Linked DNA regions of Homo sapiens: region 2 is linked to region 1. The links come from fine-mapping of genetic effects on gene expression. A gene starts in region 1. The other region holds a variant in brackets. All regions are shown on one strand. Distances are from middle to middle. Region 1 holds the start of IL27RA (interleukin 27 receptor subunit alpha). Region 2 overlaps RFX1 (regulatory factor X1).

What was found. PIP is the estimated chance that this variant, and not a neighbour inherited with it, causes the effect.
Region 2: its variant is fine-mapped to the expression of IL27RA in blood mononuclear cells (TOPMed, PIP 0.97).

What each region holds. Positions count from the first base shown.
Region 1 is chr19:14,030,105-14,033,084 of GRCh38, forward strand. It overlaps IL27RA (interleukin 27 receptor subunit alpha), which reads left to right and starts at 1,658. Exons shown (of 14, transcript NM_004843.4): 1 at 1,658-1,868; 2 at 2,282-2,399. The coding sequence starts at 1,769. RLN3 (relaxin 3) reads left to right here. Exons shown (of 2, transcript NM_080864.4): 2 at 606-1,447. The coding sequence ends at 844. RefSeq lists silencers at 1,437-1,566, 1,637-1,686, 1,697-1,816, 1,827-1,876.
Region 2 is chr19:13,991,320-13,993,819 of GRCh38, forward strand. RFX1 (regulatory factor X1) reads right to left here. Exons shown (of 21, transcript NM_002918.5): 2 at 2,206-2,500. Among named protein-coding and RNA genes, the nearest start is that of RFX1, 14 kb to the right of the region's middle. The variant G/A (reference allele first, on the strand shown) is at 1,397.

The DNA.
Region 1 (2,980 bases):
AGACACCGTGCCCGGACTCAATAGTCATTTTTGAGTGCTCATCATGTTCCAGACATTGTTCTAAGTTTTTTTTTTTAATGAATATTAACTCCTTATAAAACTTGAGAAGGTTGGAGTAATTATTTTTTTCCACTTTGCAGAAAAGAACATTGAGGCTCCAAGAAGTAAATTTACTTGCTCACGATTAGAGAAGCTGGATTCATGCTCAGTCAGCCCAGCTCCCAAATGTACCAGGTCCTCAATTAATAAAGAGTAAGGAGAAATAAATGACAGGGCTGGGTGCGGTGGCTCACGCCTGTAATCCCAGCACTTTGGGTGGCTGAGGTGGGCACATCACTTGAGGTCAGGAGTTTGCGACCAGCCTGAACAACATGGTGAACCCCATCTCTATAACAATACAAAAATCAGCCAGGCCTGCTGGCAGACACCTGTAATCCCACCTACTCTGGCAGAGCCAGAATTTGAACCCAGGACTGGGTGGAATAAAAACTCTGAACTATGTCTATGACTGTTGTCACAAGATCAGAGCTAGACTGGCCAGGAGCCATGACTGTGGGTGCAGCAGCAGCTGAGCCCTGATCACTAACTCTGTTCATCTTTTGCAGGAGATACCTTCCCGGATGCAGATGCTGATGAAGACAGTCTGGCAGGCGAGCTGGATGAGGCCATGGGGTCCAGCGAGTGGCTGGCCCTGACCAAGTCACCCCAGGCCTTTTACAGGGGGCGACCCAGCTGGCAAGGAACCCCTGGGGTTCTTCGGGGCAGCCGAGATGTCCTGGCTGGCCTTTCCAGCAGCTGCTGCAAGTGGGGGTGTAGCAAAAGTGAAATCAGTAGCCTTTGCTAGTTTGAGGGCTGGGCAGCCGTGGGCACCAGGACCAATGCCCCAGTCCTGCCATCCACTCAACTAGTGTCTGGCTGGGCACCTGTCTTTCGAGCCTCACACATTCATTCATTCATCTACAAGTCACAGAGGCACTGTGGGCTCAGGCACAGTCTCCCGACACCACCTATCCAACCCTGCCCTTTGACCAGCCTATCATGACCCTGGCCCCTAAGGAAGCTGTGCCCCTGCCTGGTCAAGTGGGGACCCCCCCATCCTGACCCCTGACCTCTCCCCAGCCCTAACCATGCGTTTGCCTGGCCTACACACTCCACTGCCACAACTGGGTCCCTACTCTACCTAGGCTGGCCACACAGAGACCCCTGCCCCCTTCCCAGTCCAAACTGTGGCCATTGTCCCCTGACCAGCTAAAATCAAGCCTCTGTCTCAGTCCAGCCTTTGCACGCACGCTTCCTTTGCCCTGCTTTCCATCCCCTCTCCCTCCAACTCCCCTGCCAGAGTTCCAAGGCTGTGGACCCCAGAGAAGGTGGCAGGTGGCCCCCCTAGGAGAGCTCTGGGCACATTCGAATCTTCCCAAACTCCAATAATAAAAATTCGAAGACTTTGGCAGAGAGTGTGTGTGTGTGTGTATGGTTGTTGGGCGTAGGACAGGTTTCGGGGATGCGCGGTACGCGGTACCACCCCTCGGAGGCCCCCACCCCCAGACGCCCAGGCCGCCTCCCCACTCCCCCTCAAGCAGCCCCAGCCGGGGACTTTCCGTCGCGGGGAAGGGGCGGGGACCCTGAGCGAAAGGTGCGGAGGCGGCCTGCCGGGGTGGTTCGGCTTCCCGTTGCCGCCTCGGGCGCTGTACCCAGAGCTCGAAGAGGAGCAGCGCGGCCGCGCGGACCCGGCAAGGCTGGGCCGGACTCGGGGCTCCCGAGGGACGCCATGCGGGGAGGCAGGGGCGCCCCTTTCTGGCTGTGGCCGCTGCCCAAGCTGGCGCTGCTGCCTCTGTTGTGGGTGCTTTTCCAGCGGACGCGTCCCCAGGGTGAGTGCTGGAGGGAGCTCGTGTCCCGGGCGCTGCCGCTGCGCTCCCCGCGAAGGCGCCAGTGCTCCAGGATAAGCCACGCGTATGCAGAGCGAACGGTAGAGGTGCAGGCGCCACTCGGCTCCTCCCGGGGCAGGGACCCGGCGACACTGGGGAATGGGCGGCAGCGAGGTCGAACCGGAGCCCCGGGGCGGGGTGGGGGAGCTCTCTGGGTGGTTAACAGGATGTGGCGAGCACAGGGAAAGGGGGGGTTTGCACGGAGCCCGGGCAGGGGTGCCTAGCGCCTCCCTTCCTGCTGCTCATTTCCCTAAGCCCCCCCACCTTGCAATTGTCAGAAGTCCAAGTTCTGGGGTGTGCAGGCGGAAGGGGGGGATTCGACCCCCTTTCCTGAGACCCTCTGACTCCCTCTCCAGGCAGCGCCGGGCCACTGCAGTGCTACGGAGTTGGACCCTTGGGCGACTTGAACTGCTCGTGGGAGCCTCTTGGGGACCTGGGAGCCCCCTCCGAGTTACACCTCCAGAGCCAAAAGTAGTGAGTACAGGGAGGTGACGTGGGGAAACAGGCTTTGGAGGTGGCCGCTCAGGCCCCAGGCTGCTTTGGTTGAAAGGTTCCAGGAGTCAAGCCTGGCCAACATGGTGAAACCCTGTCTATACTAAAAATACAAAAAAAAAAAAAAAAAAAAAATTACCCAGGGGTGGTGGCGCGCGCCTGTAGTCCCTGATACTCAGGAGGCTGAGACAGGAGAATCGCTTGAACCCGGGAGGCGGAGGTTGCAGTAAGCCCAGATCTCGCCACTGCACTCCAGCCTGGGGGACAGAGGGAGACTCTGTCTCAAAAAAAAAAAAAAAAAAAAAGAAAAGAAAAGAAAAGAAAGTCCCAGGAGTCTGCCCCCCTCCCCCAATACTCCTCCACTCCTTCAATTCTAGCTTCCCTCGTTTCTTTGCTGTGTCACCCTGGGCAAGTCACTTTCCCTCTTTGAGTCTCCTTTTCATTTCTCTATTAAATAGCAATCATAGGGCCAGGAGAGGTGGTTTGCACCTGTCATCCCAGCATTTTGGGAGGCCGAGGCGGGAGGATCGCTTGAGCCCAGGAGGAGTTCAGAGTTTTAGAGA
Region 2 (2,500 bases), 39 kb before region 1:
TGAAGTTCACTGTTAAGGAAATGCTGCAGGATTTCTGAGGGGTGCTGAGAACCCACCAGAGGTTTGTGGCCTGAAGACCCTGCCCATGACTGCAGCCCGACCTCAACCAGGGCAGGGCTGTGTCTACACAGGCGGGGGGGCACTAAGTGTGGCGCTCATGCGGACACCTCCACTCCGTCCATATAGTAAAGAGTCACTGCCCTGAGTCCCTGCATGTTCCCGCCCCAAACCTCTGCCAGAGACCCTGGACCTCCCACGCAGACACTGCCAGAAGCCTCTGGGACACTGCCCAGGGCTCCAGCCCCATCTGCTTTGTTCCACAACGGGGCCAATTGCTACACTTTTCATTACTTTTTTTTTGAGATGGATTCTCGCTCCGTTACCCAGGCTGGAGCGCAGTGGCACGATCTCAGCTCACTGCAACCTCTGCCTCCGGGTTCAAGTGATTTTTCCTGCCTCAGCTTCCTGAGTAGCTGGCATTACAGGTTCGCGCCACCACGCCCAGCTAATTTTTATATTTTTAGTATAGATGGGGTCTCACCATGTTGGCCAGGCTGGTCTCGAACTCCTGACCTCAAGTGATCCACCTGCCTCGGCCTCCCAAAGTGCTGGGGTTATAGGTGTGAGCCACCACACCCGGCCAATTGCTACATGTTTTGATGACTCTTTATGACCTGATGGTCCCCAATCCCATCTTGACCCACCCCTTCCACAGCCCCTCAGGATGCCCTGATGATCTCACCCCTTCCATTCCCACTCTGAGAAGGACCAGGGCCAGCTTTGATCCGGGCTCCCACTGAGGCCTCCGTCCACCACAGAGCACATTAAAAACACACTAGCTGTGCACAGTGGCAGGCGCCTGTAGTCCCAGCTACCTACAAGGCTGAGGCAGGAGAATCACTTGAGCCCAGGAGTTCGAGGTCAGTCTGGACAGCATAGCAAGACCCCATCTCTAAACCAAAAAAACACACGAATCTAGCCTAATGCCCAGGCTGTGCTGCCATTCCCACCAGAGCACTGAGTCAGTCGAGACAGAGACCCAGCCCTCAGGCAGACCCTAAACCAGTCAAAACATCGTCACTATGTTTACTGTGGGAAATGCTCAGAGGGCAACAGGTCTGTCCAAGATGGCCTGCTCTCAACACAGGTCCTGCGTGCCTTAGCTTATGTCATGAGAAAGAAAAGCAAAAATAAAGAAAAGGGCCAGTCCCTGGATCCTGCCCAAAACAACAGGGCGGCTGCTCTAGGAAGGGGAGGTGACATGTCCAGGCCCTCACCCCCAGCTGACCTCCCTGAAGTGCCCACTCAAGGCCATCCTGGCTATGAGACCCTCGCATGCGTCCCCTGAGAGAGAGGAGCTATGATGATCCCATCACAAATGAGGAAACCAGAGCAG[G/A]GAGGCCAAAAGACTGGTGTGTAGCCAGGCCAGGCCTCTGTCTCCCACAGGTGCATGCAAACTTTGATGCCACTGCCCAAACCCTTCTTCCAGTGACATCTTATTTGCAAAGAGAGGTCAGAACAGCTCTAAGAGGCTGAGCATGGTGACTCATGCCTGTATTCCCAGCACTTTGGGAGGCTATGGCAGGAGGATCGCTTGAGTCCAGGAGTTTGAGACCAGCCTAGGCAATATGGCGAGACCTCATCTCTACAAAAAATACAAAAAAACAAAAAAATTAGCTGGGCACAGCTGCACACCTGTGGTCTCAGCAACTCAGGAGACCGAGGTGGGAGGATCATTTGAGGCCGGGAGGATCATTTGAGGCCAGGAGTTTGAGACCTGCCTGAGCAACATGGGAAGATCCCATAGCTACAAAAAATTTTAAAAATTAGCCAGGCATGGTGGTGGGCACCTGTGGTCTCAGCTACTTGGGAGGCTGAGGTGGAAGGATTGCTTGAGCCTGGAGGGTTGAGGCTGCTGTGAGCTGTGATTGTGCCACTGCACTCCAGCCTGGGCAACAGAATGAGACTCTGTCTCAAAAAATAAAATAAAACCAAAAAAAGAAGCTCTAAGAGCTGCTCTGGTGGGAAGGAGTTTGGGGGGACAGAGGCCTCCTTGCATGGCTTAAGCACCCCTGCCCTAGTGATACCCCAAGTCCCATCCAGAAACCTTGGGGGGCATGGCAGCCCTGTGCCTTCACACCCAGGGTCTAGGCTATCTGAACAACTCTGAGAGGAGTTTTCAGGACACACGAGCGCGGCACTTACCAGAGACAGTGACCACGATGTACTGCTGGGGTGCAGGCGAAGGGGTGGGTGCACCGGTTGGCTGCGAGGGTGCGGGTACAGCCGGGAGCTCCGTCACGTACTGCTTCTGGCCACCCGGTGGCTGTGCCTGGGGCTGGGGGCTCTGCAGCTCGGTGACATATTGGGGCTGAGGGGTGGCAGCAGCGGTGGGTGGCTGCGGGGGCTGGGGTGCCGCTGGGGGTGGTGGCGGTGGCGGCTGGGGCTGGGCTTGTGGCGGGGCCTGTGGCGGCTGGGATGGTGGCGGGGCTGCCTGTAG